2 separate regions of the Homo sapiens genome follow, and region 2 is linked to region 1. The links come from fine-mapping of genetic effects on gene expression. Tissue or cell type: sun-exposed skin. Region 1 holds a variant in brackets; the other region holds the start of a gene. All regions are shown on one strand. Distances are between the middles of the regions.

What was found. PIP is the estimated chance that this variant, and not a neighbour inherited with it, causes the effect.
Region 2: COL27A1 starts here. The variant in region 1 is fine-mapped to the expression of COL27A1 in sun-exposed skin (GTEx, PIP above 0.99). The same link has a PIP of 0.9 or more in esophagus mucosa and unexposed skin.

The regions. Positions count from the first base shown.
Region 1 is chr9:114,274,224-114,282,324 of GRCh38, forward strand. It overlaps COL27A1 (collagen type XXVII alpha 1 chain), which reads left to right. Exons shown (of 61, transcript NM_032888.4): 37 at 1,438-1,545; 38 at 8,054-8,101. Among named protein-coding and RNA genes, the nearest start is that of ORM1, 45 kb to the right of the region's middle. RefSeq lists enhancers at 2,375-3,574, 7,066-7,878. The variant C/T (reference allele first, on the strand shown) is at 4,829.
Region 2 is chr9:114,151,450-114,159,550 of GRCh38, forward strand. It overlaps COL27A1 (collagen type XXVII alpha 1 chain), which reads left to right and starts at 4,088. Exons shown (of 61, transcript NM_032888.4): 1 at 4,088-4,563. The coding sequence starts at 4,502. LOC105376225 (a long non-coding RNA gene) reads right to left here and starts at 2,819. Exons shown (of 5, transcript XR_930256.3): 1 at 1,646-2,819; 2 at 1,391-1,548; 3 at 1,144-1,238. RefSeq lists an enhancer at 1,895-2,416 and silencers at 3,953-4,072, 4,960-5,254.

The DNA.
Region 1 (8,101 bases):
TCCGTCTAAAAAAAAAAAAAAAAAGCCCATGCCAAGGGTTGCCTTTCCAAGGAAATAACCTCAGGTGCCCCAAAGGTCCGAAGCCCCAAGAAGACCTTGGTTACAGCCCTATCACTGTAAAGAGGATACGCTCAGGATCCTGCTTCAAAGTCCAGCTCCACCGCTAGCCAGTTGTGGGCCTCTGGGCCAGACCACTTGATTTAGCTCTGCCTCAGTTTCCTCTTCTGTAAAATGGGACTAAAAGCGGACCAGCCTTAGAAAGCTTTTGTGGGGATTAAGTCAGTTAATAGATGTTAAAGGACTCAGACTATGGTCCTGACATGGTTAGTGCTATATAAATGTTAGCTCCATCCACTCCCCAGAGAAAGTATTCTGCAGCCAATAAGAATGATCGCCATGCAGAGCCCAGAGCGATAGGAGGGCACGTTCACCATAGAGCAAAGCAGTAACTATAACAAACAAAGATGGAGACCAGCAGTCCAGTGGGATTGTGCCTTTAGAGCTTAGTTTACTGCTGTCCGATTCATTGCCTTGGGAGAGTTGCTTCACTGCCCTGAGCCTGGTACATACCATCCAAACTGTTACCTACCATTTATTATTATTATTATTATTCACTGTGTTTTTGTCATCGAGGATTGAAAATACAACTCAGAAAAATGGAAAGAGTGGTTCTGAGAAGGAGAATTGGGTGAATTTTCTTTCTTGATGAAAATTTCTTTCAGCTAGTTGCAGCAGCTCATACCTGTAATCCCAGCACTTTGGGAAGCTGAGGTGGGAGAATTGCTTGAGCCCAGCAGTTGGAGACCAGCCTGGTCAATGGTCTCCAACTGCTGGGCTCAAGCTCTCTTGTAGCAAGACCCCATTTCTACAAAAAAAGAAATTTTTTTTCAATTAGCTGGGCATGGTGGCATGTGCCTGTAGTCCCAGCTACTTGGGAGGCTGAGGCAGGAGGATTGCTTGAGCCCAGGAGGTCGAGGCTGCGGTGACCTATAATTGCGCCTCTGCACTCCAGCCTGGGAGAGAGTGAGACTCTGTCTAAAAAATAAAAAAAAAAAATCTGCTTCATAAGACTCTTGTTCTCCCAATGTGTCTAAGTTGGAGAGAAATTGCCCTTGTCTCCTGTGAACTCCATGGGGTGGGTGCAGTCAGGACCCCGGCTTATCTCTGAGTCACTCTGCCCTTCGCAGCCCAGGCCCAGGCAGGGACACATGGGAGCCTCTACGTCTGGGATGCATCCTTGTGCAAGCTTAGAGCTACACTGGGCTTGGCAGCCGAGTCACAGCACCCTGCCTTTTTGGCTGCAGAGGGAACTATCGAGAATCTAGGGACCAGTTGGCTGTGGATGCCTGAATGGAGCCCTGAGATTTGGGGCCTCTGATGCACTTGGCAACTAACTTATTCTCTCTCTCTCTCCCCTCTTCATGCCCTGCCACCCAGGGGGACAGGGGAGACCCAGGGCCTGATGGAGAACATGGCGAGAAAGGCCAGGAAGGGCTGATGGGTGAGGACGGGCCCCCCGGCCCCCCTGGCGTCACTGGTGTCCGGGTGAGTGTGCAGGCCCCTTGCAGCGCCTGGAGCTCTGGGGTACCCTGAACTCTCATGCCTGTGCAGGCGGCTGGGCGGGAGGGCTTTTGGTCGTGCCACTGAAGGATCTTCTGCTGTGGTCCTTTCTCCACCTGGCAGTTTGCCAGAGAACCAATCTGCTCAATGCTCCATGGCTCTGGAGAACAACCTCGGTTACTCATCCTCCTGGCTGCCCTGCCCTGTGCAAACCTGGTCCCTGCCGACCTCATCTCATCCATCCCCCATATCCAGACACACTAAACTTTTTTCAGTTTCTTGGACAAGCTGTGGCCCTTACCCCTGGGCCTTTGCATGTGCTCTGTCTAGGACACTCTCCCTTCTTCACTCCCCTGTCACCTGCTTAAGTTCTATTTGGCCTTCAGGTATCACCATAGACATCACCTGCTCCAAAAAGCCATTCCTGCCCCCAGGCTGGGCCATGAGCCCTCAGGGACATGCATAACCTTCAGTGTATGTCTTGGCTCCATGAAGACCAAGACCTTTTCTGGCCTTCATTTACGTCTTTAACAGTGCCTTGGCCAGGTGCGGTGGCTCACGCCTGTAATCCCAGCACTTTGGGCAGCCAAGGCGGGTGGATCACTTGAGGTCAGGAGTTGGAGACCAGCCTGGCCAACATGGTGAAACCCCGTCTCTACTAAAAATGTAAAATTAGTCAGGCATGGTGGCGCATGCCTATAGTCTCAGTTACTCAGGAGGCTGAGGCAGGAGAATCACTTGAACCTGGGAGGCGGGGGTTGCAATGAGCTGAGATTGCGCCACTGCACTCCAGCCTGGGCAACAGAACAAGACTTTGTCACAAAAAAACAAACAAACAACAACAACAACAAAACCAGTACCTGACACATAAGAGGTGACCAAAGTCTGTTTGTTGATTGAGAAGACGGAGGAACTCTGCTCTTCCACCCTAACAGAAATGTACTTAGTCAGTCCACAGACCCTCACGAGCATCTTCCCTGGGCCAGGTCCCCTGAGATTGAAGAGGTAAATCAGAAAGCATCCCTGACTTTGAGGGACATAGAAGCCAGTAGGGAAGGGAGCAGAATTCTCCTGTTTCAACATGTACAGACAAGTTGCCCAATGCTTTCTCGAAGGTTCCCTCTTTGATACCGATAGCAACCCCTGAGGATTGGGAAAATCGGAGAGGTAAAGGAAACTTCCCAGGCTCACACAGTGAGAAATGACAAAGCTGGAATTTGAACTTAGGCCTGCATGACTCTACGCATACTGCCCCTGTGCTCTGGCAGAGTTGGAATCCAGGGCTTGGCTGTGGGGCTGTGAGGATGAGCTGGAGGCAGGTGGAAGCTTGATTTTTGAGTGTCGCAAATACTGGACTGATGACTCGGAACTTGACTTGGTAGTGGGGGGCAGTGGTAGTCTTGTACAGTTGAGCAGGGTTTGTGTGACCCAGGAGTGCTGGGTCGGTTCAGTTGAACTCCTTGGGACCCGTGGATTAGGTGGCCTCGTAGACAAAATGCCCAAATGCACAGGCCTGCTGGCATCTACCTTGAGCCAACCAGGTGGTGAGAACTCATGCCTCTGCTGCCATCCCAGTCTCCCTGGGGTGTCATTTTCACTCTTCATCCCTCAAGCGGAGAGACTGACGTTGTTACCTAGGCAAAGCAGCCCAGTTTGATTCAGGCCTGCTCTTGACACTGTTTTTCCCCCCTGAAGTGTTTACATGACTAACCTAGGACAGATCCAAGTTAGCCTGCAACAAACTATGGTTGTGGGAAAATATTTGTTTCCTAAAAATAGCACTGAAGTGCCAATCCCCCTAAACAGCTGCAACAGAATGAACTCACCAAACTAGAGAAGAATACGAGGGCGCTGAGTCAGCCAGGAGGCTTCCCCCAGGCTTGACTCAGTGGCGGGCTTGACTCAGCGGCGGGGAAGTAGGCCAAGGGGAATTTAGCAGGAGGGTCCCGGGCCAGGATTCTGCATTAGGAACTTGGTCTGCGACCTTTCACCCGCCCCCTGCCCTCTCTGGTTTTGCCCTTGGAGGGTTTGGAAGGAATGTGTGCTAAGATTACTTTGAGCTCCAGCGTTCTAGGGACCCTTTTTTAGTGAGTGTTGAGTATCATGGCTGTGGAATGGGCAGGAACACATGGCAGAAATAGCCTTGGAACCAGAGTCCTGAGGTTGAACTTGAGTTTCTGGCTCTAGTAACCCATTCTCTGTGTGACTTTGGGCAAATCACTGCCCCTCTCTGAGCCTTGGTTTTCTTATCTATAAAGAATAAATAAAACTTAGGGTAGGAAAGCACTTTATAAAATGCACCAGAAATATAGAAGATTGTCTTTATAAATTTAGAGGAGAAAGTGACTAGAGGCTGGTGGTGGCTGGTGGTGATGGTGAGTGGATGGTGTGGGTGGGGGCAGCAGCAATGGTAGTGGTGGTAATGACGATAATAATGATGGTGATGGTGGTAGTACTGATGATGGTGTTGGTGGTGGTGATGATGATGAAGATGATGGGGGTGTTGATGGTGGTAGTGGTGGTAGTGGTGACTGTGATGAGGTGGTGATGGTGGTGCTGGTGCTGGTGGCGATGGTGATAGTGGAGTGGAGGTGAGGGTGATGATGGTGCTGGTGGCGATGGTGGTGGTGATAGTGATAGTGGTAATGATAATGATGATGATGGGGCACTGATGATGGTGGTGGTGATGGTGGTGGTGATAATGGTGGTGGTGGTACTAATGATAGTGGTAGTGGTGGTGATGATGGGTGGTAGTGATGGTAGTAGTGATGGCAGGGGAGTGATGATGGTGGTCATGGCAGTGGTGGGGGTGGGAGTGGTGATGATGATGATATGGTGGTATGGCGTAGGTAGTGGTGATGATGATGGTGATGATGATGATAGTAGTGGTGTGGTGGTGGTAGCTGTGTTAATGTCAATATTTTGCCATCACTCCCATTTCTCATATGCCGGGATTGGAAGGAGAGTCACTTGGGCCAGACGAAGTGTGTGCCAAGTGATAAGGCAGTGAGGGGCCTTACTTGAGTCTCTTTGGCATCAGGATAAATACCTCCCACTCTGTGGCCTGGAAACAGTTGAGTATTTAAAAACAGAATTTTATGAGCCATCGGGGCCTTTCCAGAAATGCATCTATATGGATGGGGCCCAGCAGAAATATTCATTCCGGACCCACAGCCTCACCCACTGTATGTATGCTCTCGGCTGGAGAGGGCACGTCCCAGCAAGTGGCACCCTGTCCCAGGGGAGACGCAGCCTCCCGTCTCCCTGC[C/T]CCTGTACCGGATGCTTCAGCACTGACTCATCTCGCCTTCTGCAAGGGATCAGTCAGCCATTGCCGCCACCTCAGTGCACTGGAAAATGCCACCAATCACTGTGACATGGCTTCCCCATTGCCTGACCAAGACCAGCCTGGAAGGAGAGGTGCCCCAGAAGTGGAGGAGCTGCTTGTCACTTCTGACCTGGCTGGGAGGCCCACAGAGGGCTTCCTCTCACTGAGCCTCAGTTCCTTTAGCTCCAAAACGGGATAAATAATCCCTTCCTCCAAACACTGGCGAGAATTGAACAAACATTTATGTGGAATGAGAACACAGCACATGGCCCGTGGTGAGGGTTGTAGGGATTGTTGGTGTTTTATTACCGGAGGAGCTGGAGACTTTGAGATTGCCTAGTGCAGTCCGATAGAAATGAAATACAAGCCATATACAAGCCACTCCTTTTAAATTTTCTAGTAGCCACCTTTAAAAACAGCAAAAAGAAACAGGTAACTTCAATTTTAAGGGCCAGTGCAGTGACTCATGCTGGTAGTCCCAGCACTTTAGGCAGCCAAGGTGGGAGGATTGTTTGAGCCTAAAAGTGCAAGACCAGCCTGGGCAACATAGTGAGAACTTGTTTCTATAACAATTAAATTAAATTAAATTAAAAAGTTAGCTGGGCGTGGTGGTGCATGCCTGTAGTCTTGGCTACTCGGGAGGCTGAGGTGGGAGGATCACTTGAGTCCCAGAGGTTGAGGCTTCAGTGAGCTGAGATTGAGCCACTGTGTTCCAGCCTGGGCAACAGAGAGAGACCTTGTCTCAAATTTAAAAAGGAATTAATTTTAATAATATAGTTTATTTAGCCCAATATATCCAAATATTATCATTTCAAAATATAATCAATATAAAAATCATTAATAAGATATTTAGCACTCTTTTTGTAGTAAGTCTTTGAAATCCAGTGTATAGTATATTTTCATAGCATACTCAATTCAGATGTGAATTTTCATTGGAAATACCTGATCCGTGTTTAGATTTTCATTGTATATAAAATTTCATTGGAAATACTTGATCTGTATTTAGATTTCATAAAATTTACAGTTGACAATGTAGGTTCATATACCCAAGTTACTCCAAACAAGTTTTGTAGCAACCTAATTGGGTGTGTCAACTTTTAATTTTTTTTTTTTTTTCTTTTGAGACACAGTCTCACTCTGTCGCCCAGGCTGGAGTGCGGTGGTGCTCACTGCAATCTCCACCTCCCAGGTTCAAGAAATTCTCATGCCTCGGCACTCCCAGGTAGCTGGATTACAGGCGTGCACTACCATACCTGGCTAATTTTTGTATTTTTAGTAGAGACAGCATTTTGCCATGTTGGCCAGGCTGGTCTTGAGCTCCTGGCCTCAAGTGATCCACCCACCTCAGCCTCCCAAAGTGCTGGGATTACAGGCATGAGCCACCGTGTCCAGCCTTAAATTTAATTTTAAATTAATTAAAGTTAAATAATATTAAGAATTCAGTTCCTCAGTCATAGTAGCCAGATTTCAAGTGTTCGGTAGCTGTATGTGGCTGGAGGCCACGGGGCTAGTCCCATACTAGAGGTGGGGAAACTAAGGTTCAGAGAAAGAGCAGGATTTGTCCAGGGGTACATGTAGACTCAGGCACTGGGTTGCAGGCAGTCTGTGCTGAGGTCCTTCCCGGGCCACTGTTCCTGCCTTTCTGAGGACCGCAGGGTGGTCTGACTGGTGCATCTCTTTGGGATAGCGTCATCTTTTCTGGCATCATAGTTGATGCCGCATTAGTCTTTAGAGCAGACATTTCTCCCTTGTGCTGAATCAAAGCCAGCCGCCCCATAATTTTCATGCGCTGGCCACCCTAGAGAACATGGCTGGCCCTGCCTCCAGAACAGCTGCAGAAATCTGCAGACAGGAACCAAGTCCTCTGGGTTGGTCCAGATGTTTCCTTGTTCCTCTAGGACCTCCTCTTCCTGTCCCTCTTCTATCACAATTAGTCAGTGCCTCTTCTTAAAGTACAATACCTATTCCCAAATGGGACATCACCTCCTTCATTCTACATCTGGTGCCTCTGTTAATGCAACCAGAGGGATTACATCAAAGCAGCTCCTTAGTGCTTACCAAGAGCATAGACATTCTTTCTAGATCCTTTGAGGCTTGCAGTCAAGAAGTCCTTTCCAGGCCAGAAACGCTGCCTGCCCCACTCCCTCCATCCTGACCTAGTATGGCCCAGGATTGATTCTCTCTCTTCTCTTTCTCTCTGTGTCTGTCTCTTACTGTCACATTCACACTTGCACACACTCACTCACCCTTGCTGTGCAGTTTCTCTGACAACTGTGGACACAAAGCTGGATTTGCCCTCCCAGGGCAGGGCAGGGCAGATCAGGCCGGAGGATCTCTTTGGGAAGCCCTGTGGGGCAGGGGCAGAGTGGCCTGTCAGAGGGAATGGCCTGGGGACTCCAAGGAAAGTGGGAGAAGGCAGCTGACCTTTCCAGCACAATTCCCTACTGTGAGGAGGCTCCTCCAGCCCAGTCCCTGAGAGAGGAGGGGCCCGTTCAAGGGACATGCCCACAGGAATTGCTCGCAAGTGACGCACAACATCTCAGAGATAGGGAAGAACCTATAAATCCTCTCCTGCCACCTCATGTCATCAGTGGGGACCATGAGCCAGGGGTGGTAAGAGCCCTGGGCATGGAGCCAGAACAGCTGGGATTGATTCAGGGCCTGCAAGGCGCAGCTGGGACCCTGGGCAAAAGTCACTGTATCTTTGGGAACTTGGCTGCCTCAACTGGAAGCGGGTCTCATTGGGGCCTAATGTTCAAGGTCGTTGGGAGGGTGGAACAGCACTTGGCGCTGGAGAGAGCTCAGTGCAGAGAGTTGCTCCCTGTAGGACACCCCTGGATGCCTAACAGTAACCATGACAACAGCAAAGCCAGCAATTGCAGAAGCCGCACCCGCCATCCACCCCTGCACCCAGGCCTCACTGTCAGCACGTTCTTACATCGCCAGGTCGAATCCCTAAGTTCTGTGACACTGTCCCCACTTCACAGCAGAGGATGCTGAGCCTGGGAAATTAGGTCAGGCTCAAGGTCATGTGGGTACTGGGTGGCAGAATCAGTTTCGAACCTGGCCATCTGCCTCCAGAGCCGACAGTCTGACCGCCTTGCGGATCCGCCTCAGTTTCCTCTCTTCTCTCATCTTTCTCTTGCTCTGTCCCTCCTCTCTCTTCAGGGTCCTGAAGGAAAATCAGGGAAGCAAGGCGAGAAGGGCCGCACTGGA
Region 2 (8,101 bases), 120 kb before region 1:
CTTCTCCTAAGGCAGATGTGCCACAGAGACCGATGGGTCCATGGCTGAGCTGCTTGAGCAGGGAACAAACTATGTGTTCCCTGAAAGTCCCCACCAGGCCAGGAATTCTCATCCTGAGGCATCTACAGAGGCCTGGCAGCCCCTGCCCACCTGGTTCCCAGGCTTACTGCCTTCTGCCCCATAGAAATGGGCCCCTTAGGGCTGTTTGGTGAGTGTGCTGTCCCCTTTGAAGGGTGGGTAATGGCTTGGTGTCTTCCAGATTCAACGTCCATCAGAACAGTTCATGCCCAGTCACTGGCTCTGCGCCAAGAACCTGCCTGGCAGGAAGACTGCTTGTGGGGAGACGGCAGAGGCAGGATACAAGGCCCTTCCTTGGAATTCTCCCCAGTGTCCCTGCCTCCTCTTCTCAGCTGCCCATGAGCTCCTGGAAGGCCATGAGCCTCATTTCCCTCCCGACCTAGCAAAATGCAGTTAGCCCTCAATATTCACATACATAATTGGATTTCTTGTTGAAGGACAGTCTCATGCCTCCAAGCTCAAAGGGCCCACACAGATCATCACGTTTGATGCACCTATTTTACAGATGGGCAGAGTGAGGCTCTGAGAGGGGATGTCCTCAATCCTTTTGGGTTCTCATAGCATTCTCACGGGTCTTTTGGGCTGACCTGGGTGAAGCAGGCAGCATTCCCTGGCACTAAGCCTTGCCTATTCACATTTGTGAGTGAAATTTGGAAAGGCCTTGGTGCTTAGCCACTGACCTGCTGCCTGCCTGACCTTTCAGGAAATGCAGTCCCTTGCCTGGAAATGGCTTTGTGGACAGTGAGTCGTGTGGTATCACCCACACAATACAGTGGGGAGAACTGGACAGTTTCCCCAGTTTCTCACTGGGCCCCACCGCCTCAATCCTCCTTCAAAACCTGCCTGAAATCCAACTCTGTCCTCTTGGTCTTTTTGTGACTCTTTCACCGGAGATGTCCTTCTCCTCTGTGGCTGCACATTTATCCAACACACCCTTTAAGATCCAAATGCCACCTCCTCCTGGGGGCCTTCCTCGGTTTCTTTCCATCCCTTAATCAGCTTCACAATTCAATTGATCTGCATCTCTTTGGTGGCATTTATCACATTCTCCTTATATTATCTTACCTTTATGCAGTTGCAGGGGGTTCTCCATGACATAGTGATGTCTGATGTCTCCCATCCAGACTCTCTTCCCTACCCCAAGTTGCTGTGCGTGTCTCCTGTCCACATTACAAATGCGTGCATGACCAGAAGGCAGGACCATATGGAAATTTTTGTCCCTGCCCCCACAGTGGCAGACCCTTTTCCCCCAGAGTCTTGTACAGGGGTTTGCATACTGTAGGAGTTAAAACAAATAACTTATTTAAATTACCAACGGTTTGAGCATCTATTGTATCCCAGGCTCCATGTGTCAGGCTGGGTGTGGGGACACAGAGATGGATCTGACAATGACAGCGCCATGTGATGTGTGCTGCAATCCCGGTGTAGGGCAGAGCAGCTCACCAGAGTCAGGTGAGCTCTGGCCTGCACCTAGAAGAATAACCAGGTTGTGAACAGGCAGAAAAGGGGCAGAGGGAGAACCTGGGAGGAAACAGTATGGAGAAAGCATCGAAGTAGTCAAGCTTACCTGAGCCTGGGTGCAGGTATCAGAGAGACTGGAGCTCAGGAGGCCGGATCTGAAGCTGGGGAGGCTGCTGAGGATCTGCACAGAACCCCTTAAAGCCTAAGATTTGGATCCTTATGACAAGATGCAGAAGTTTGGAGTTAGGTTACCTGGGTTCAAATCCCACCTCTACCACCTACCCGTTTATGTCAGCTTTCCCATCTGTAAATGGAGAGAAAAAAGCAGGCCTCCCTTAAACCCCAGCACTGTGTGGGTCAGGGTCTGGACTAGGGTGTGGCACATGCAGAGATGCAGCATACCAGGAGATGCCAAGAAAACTCAGCAACGGAGGTAAATTGCCCAAAGCAGTGCCCCAAACCCCTAAGTAATCAAAATAATATTTTAATTTTTTACTTTTAAAATATTTTTAAAAGTATCAAAATTAATGCAAAACCCCACAATGAACAAAATATCTAAAATGTAAATAAAGACAGGGTCTGCATGGTACCAAGTATGCAACTAAAAAAACATCAGTTATGATTGAAGAGGGAGTTCTCAACCTTAGGGGGCCGTGGACTTCTGAAAACCGGAGGAAAGCCCACGGCCCCTCTCCCCTGAAGAATGCACAAACATGCTCAATTTGTGCACAGTTTGGGGGTGTTCCTGCACTCCCTGGGGTTCGTGCACATGGAAGTTAAGAACTCTGGTTCAACATTGGGGGTGCGGGGGTGGCGGGGGTGGTTCCACGCGCCGGCCAGCAGCCTGCCAGTTCCCCAGTCCCGCGACTGGCCTCCCTCCTGGCAGCCATGGGTGCTCTGCCCTCTGCAGGAAGCAGCGCACAGCTATGCAGCTCCCCCAACCCCCCTACCTCCCCTCTCTCGGCTTGGGACTTTTCCTAAAGTTTGTTGAAACCAGACACCTTGCTCGACCGAGCCCGCGTGCAGCCAGGGTTTAAAAGGCCGCCTTCAGCGCCCCCTCCCCGCCCCCAGCGGAGACTTCAAAAGGCCCGGCGGGCGCCGCCGCCCCAGCACCTATGAGCCGCCCCCAGCTCTCGGAGCCCGCGCCGGAGCCCGTGGACGCAGAGCTGCCGAAGTTCGAGCGCAGGCGGACCGGGTCGGCGGCGCAGTCCCGCGCGCCCATGCCCCTCCCGGTGCCGCTGCGCTCCGCGCGCCCGCGCCCCGTTTAGGGAAGGGGACCTCGCCCCCCGCCCCCGCGCCCACGGCTGCGGGGACCCATGAATACAAATGCCGTTAGGCGCCGGAGGAAGGACCGACCGGCCAGCCTCGCACGTAGGGACCCAGTAAGTGCTTGGGGGCTCCTGGAGCGGTGCGAAGTGTTATATGCCTGTGTGTGCGCGCGCCTAAAGGTGTGCGCGTATGGGGAGGTGGGTACACGCGTGAGGAGTGAATGCGTGTGTGCACATGTGCGGTGGGCACTCTCGGAGAACTGTGTGCAAGTGAGGGTGTGCGCGCGTGTGTCCACCCGGGGTGTGTACATGTGTGGGGGCGATATGGCCAGGATAGCGTGCATTTGTGCCTGTGTAAGCATCCGTGTGCATGCTTCTGCGAGTGTAGAGTATCAGCGTGCGCCTGAGCCCAGATATCTGAGGATGCGTTTCGTGTGAACCTAGGAAGGGTGCGTGGCTGTCCCAGAATGGGACCGTGTGTGAGCGTGTGTCTGAGTTTGGGGAAAGGGTGGATACGTGTGGGAGTGTGTGTGTGCACCGGTGAATAAGTGTAACTTTGCTCGTGAACGAGTGGCAAGAGGTGGTAGAGGCGGAGGGAGCTGTGGTCCCAGGGCTGGACTGGAGTTTTGGGTGTGAGAATTTGCCCGGGGGCCAAGGTGTGCAGCTCTTAGCTCCCGGATGGGATCCGAGGGAGTTTTTGTCGATTCTGGGGAGGTGCGTGGTTAGTGGTGGTGGTGGGGTGCGGTTAGATTCCAATTGCTGACAGAAGGGAGAGAGAGGGTGGCAAACCCTTAACAAGCCCACCCTATATGTTCTCCAGGGCGCTCCGAGTCTGGGAGCGCAAACTTTTGGTGGGCGGTGGGGATCACGATACTGGTTGTCGTGGGCGTCTGGACACCAAGTTCTGGTCCTAGCTCCGTCCCTGAAACTGTGGGTTTCTTCCAGGAGTAGAATTTGGCCCTTCTCCCCTACCCCAACCCCCCATTGGAGGACCCCCAGCCTCACCAGTCAGAAGTTCCTAATCTCAGAACGGTGATCAAATCACCGTGAAGCCCTGGGCAGCCCCTTCCTCTCTGTGAATCTGTTTCCCCATCTATACAAGGAGGAGGGGGGCGGGTGTCCCATCGGGGCTGTAGTGGGCCAGCTGAGGCTGTACCCTTGGCTCCGGCCGGCAGGGGGCAGCAGGGGGCAGCAGAGGGCGGCCGGGAGCGGGGAGGAGGGAAGGTGGAGAGCCACCGCGGGCCGAGACTTTAAATCGCCTTCATTTCCCCCAAATCCTTCCTTTTCCTCTCCTCCCCCAGGCCGGCGGGGAGGCAGCTTCCACCGCCCTCCGCGCGCCCTCACCCGGCCTTGCTCTGCCTCCGGGGACCGCCAGCAGCCCGCCTCCAAAAGTTTGATCATCTCTCTCTCTCTTTTTCTTGCTTCTTCTTCCTTTTTGGTGGAAGCAGAAAAGGACCGAGGCAGGGGCGAGCGCGGCGCCCGGACTCCTGGGACCATGGGCCTGGCGCGGGCGCCCGCGGGGCCCCAGCCGCGCTGCCTGCCTGCTCGGGCGCCCCTGGGCGCGGGGCTGCGCTGGGGGCGCGGGGGCCGCGCGCTCTAAGCCGGCCTGGCGCGGCGGGGCGGGGGGCTGGCGGCCCCATGGGGCGCGCCCACACTTGCCCCCCGGGCTCGGGAGCATGAAGTAGGGGCCTGCCATGGGAGCGGGATCGGCGCGGGGGGCCCGAGGCACAGCGGCGGCGGCGGCGGCGCGCGGGGGGTGAGTACGAACTCGGGGACGCCCCCTCCCTAGCTTCCTGCTGCTCCAATCTCGGGGAGGGCCGGGGTTCCCCGCCATGCGGTCGCTTCCAGCGGAACGTCAGCTTCCTGCCCCTTCCTGCGCCCCCGCGAGGCGGGACGCCAAGGGTTAATAGGGGCTGCGCCCCCGGCCGGGCGAGAGTTGGCGAACGCTGCCCGCCCTGCCGCGCCTGGCCCGGCTGCCCGATCCCGTTGGGGCGGGGGCAGAGCCAGCCCGGGGGTCGGGGGTGGGGGTGGGTGGTGGCGCCTGGAGCGGCCGGCGGGGTGCGGAGGGGGGCTTTTTGGATGCTTGGGGGAGGAGGGGGGTCTCCGTTTGGGGCCGTCTCGGTGTGTTCCGGTGTCTCAGTGTCTGCAGGTCCCAAGCCTGTACGTCTCCGTTTCTATCTGTTCTTGTGAAATTGTCCGCAAGTTTCTAGGTCACCAGGTCTCGGGTTCTGCTCCTGTCTCCGTGTCTGTGTGGCTCTGCACGTCCCCGCGTTTCTGGAAATCTCCGCGTGTTTGTGTTAGTCGGCCTGGGTCTGTGTGTCTGTGTTTCCTGCTTCTCGGTTCCTGTCCCTTTCACGTGTGTAAGAGAGAAAAAGTGAGAGCCAGCATGTCAGAGCAGAAAGGGCCCTGGGCGATCACTGTGCGGAACCCCTCAGTGTACAGATCGGGAGACAGGGCCGGAGAGGGGCAGGGACTCTCCCAGGAGCGGCTGCGCGGAGCTGGGGCCCAGAGGCTGGGATTCCCAGCGTGTGGAGTAGGAGTTGTAAGAGAGAGTGAGCCTGTGCTGGAGCCGGCGCAGCGTGTGGGTGTGTGTGGGAGCCAGCAGCATGCAAGCAGCCCGTTGGGGCCTGTGGACGGCGCTCCTCTCTTTCCATCCTGCCCCCAGGACACCAGGACACTCCCCAGAGGCTGTTAGGGCTGTAGCTGGGCCCTGCCCCCTTTGAGCTGGAGTCCGCGGGATGACACCCCCTCCTTTCTTCCCCATGTCTTGGAAAAAGCTGGCTGTTTGCGATTCCCCCGCCCCGCACCCCCTCACCACAACACACACACACACACACACACACACACATACGCGCGCGCGGCACCAGTGAGCACACTGCTGACTCATTTTCTCCAGAAGACCCTGCGCCAGGGTAGATGCCAGCAGTTGGGCAGAAAAGTGGTGCCAGGCGAGCACCCCATGGTGGGGCTCCAGCTGTGGGCAAGTGGGCAGTCAACACTGCTCGGAGGCCCAGTCTCTGCCTTCTCCTGCCTCCCTGCCTCCCTTGACATCACGTTGTCCTGCATCATGTGCGCTCTGGCGCCAGCATACCTCTGCTCTCCAGCATGCCTCTGCTCTCCAGCATGCCTCTGCTCCTGGACCCTTCTGGCCGGACCAAACTCCATGTCATGTCTATGGACACATCCCTGGCCTCTGCCTCCTTCTGTTTCCTCCCTGTACTCAGAACATTCTCCCTCTCCTGTGCCTCCACCAGCGCTGCGGACCCTCAGCAGCCAGCAGCCTCCTGGTGGTCTCTGTCCCTTTCTGAGCACACTCCCCTGTTCTTTGTTGGCATTTTCTCTCCTCCATCTCTGTCCAGGGACCCTCTTGATACCCACATGCCTGGCTTGGCTACGCAGAGTAACATATCCACTGGTGGTAGGGGACAGCAGTGAGACACTCACAGAATCATGTTGGTGGGAGGCAGGCGGCACCACAGGAGGGCCATGAGGCTTGCCATCAGGCAGGCTCGAGTTTGAATCCTAACTCTGCTGTGCCAGCTTGGGTGAGCCACTCTGCTGCTTGTTTTTCTCTTCCACAAAACCGGCACCTTATTCCTAGCTGGCTGGGTTTTGTGAAGATGAACAGGACCATGCTTGTAAAGGGCTTAGAACAGGGCCTGGCATGTAATAAGTGCTCAGTAAACGGCAGCTGGTATTTGTATTATTCCCTTCATGTTGAATGGGTGTGTGAGTCAATGGGAAAGTTCTGGGCTGCATCCTCTCCAGACGATGACCTGTCTGTGTTCCCATGGAGGACGTGGAAGCTGTGAAGAAAGCCCAGGCATAGCCGTCTGGGCACAGGGGGTCTGGCCAGTCCATGGAGGCAGGTGGGACAGGTCCACCCCACTTGATGAGCTGTAGTTCCAGCTAGCTCCCTTTTCAGCTTTTACCCCATGCGTGAACAGCCAAGCCTAGTGTCCACAGGGCCACTTTCCCTGTGTGTTTCTGTGGCCTGGGTCTCAGCTCAGAGCCCTCAGTGACTGTTGAAGCTGGTGTGGGTTTCTAAGATCCTGTGTGTTTCCAGGTAATAAGGATGGAAGAAAACTATCCAAGCAGTCTGCCGGTTCTGGCAGTGTGGTTACCCAGGAGTAGCCCCATTTGGTGCACTGGCAGAGGGCCTTTTGCAAGGGCATAGAAACACCTGGGTTTCCTCTTTGGAGGGCTGTGTGGCCAGACGATGTTTCCATGTGATGTTTCCTCGCGGCTCCCGTTTCGGCTGCCTCCTGGCCTCCCTGGCCTCTGTGCTCTGGTCTTCCTGACATTCTGGAGCCCTGGGTTTGCAGAGACAAGGCCCACAAGACAAGTGGTGAAAACAGAAGTCTGGAAGAACAAAGCCCTGAGCCAGCACAGGCACTAACCATGATTAGCAGTAGCCTAAACAGGATTGGAACGGGAGCAAAAGAATCGGCAGGGCCTCCCTCTGAGAGCCAACTTTCCAGGCCTGGAGCTGACTTAGATGGCTCGTTGGCTCCCTGGGTTGCATCTCTGTTCCTGCTGGTGAAGGCTGGGGCTCGGGTCTCTGGCAAGTAGGAAGTCCCTGCAAGTCTCCAATTTCTGCTCCATGGAGACAAGTCAAATGAAAAGGACTATCTGTTAAGTCATAGACTTGAAGCACTGTGTGACTTCGGGCAAGTAACTTGCCCTCTCTGGGCCTCAGTTACGCATCTTTTCAAAGAAGGGAGAGAGAGGACTAGAATCTGACCCCTAGATGATCTTAAATGGCCTTCTTCCACTCTGACATGCTCTATACTTGGGAAGTTTATGGGTCAAGTGCACACAGAATCCATTTCCAAGAGGGTCAGCTGCATTTGTCAGGGAGAATGAATGGAGGTTGAATACTTCTGTAATAGGCCTTCAGGGCTGAAGTCCTCAAGTTGGAAGCCATGGTGTTAGGAAGCTTAATTGAAGAGAAGATTCTGATTCCATGTCTCCTGTGGACTTCTTCTTCCTGATTTTCAGAGATTACAAGGATTTGCCCTCTAATTCTCTGCAGAGTAGTCATTTTGGTATAGCTGTAGCCAGGGAAACTGACCGAGAAGGACATGTGTCGTTTTTGTACCTTCTCTTCCCCACCTCGCCTTTCTTTATCAGTTTGGGAAACTTCCTAGGAAGTTTGGTATGTGACATAATCCAATGAAGGACTCAAGGAGTGAGGGCAGGTGCCAGACAAGGGCCAGGAAGAGAGGGGGCTGGAAGGAGATGGAACAGAAATAAATGGGATCGCAGGAACACAGGAAGGCAAGGGGTAGTCT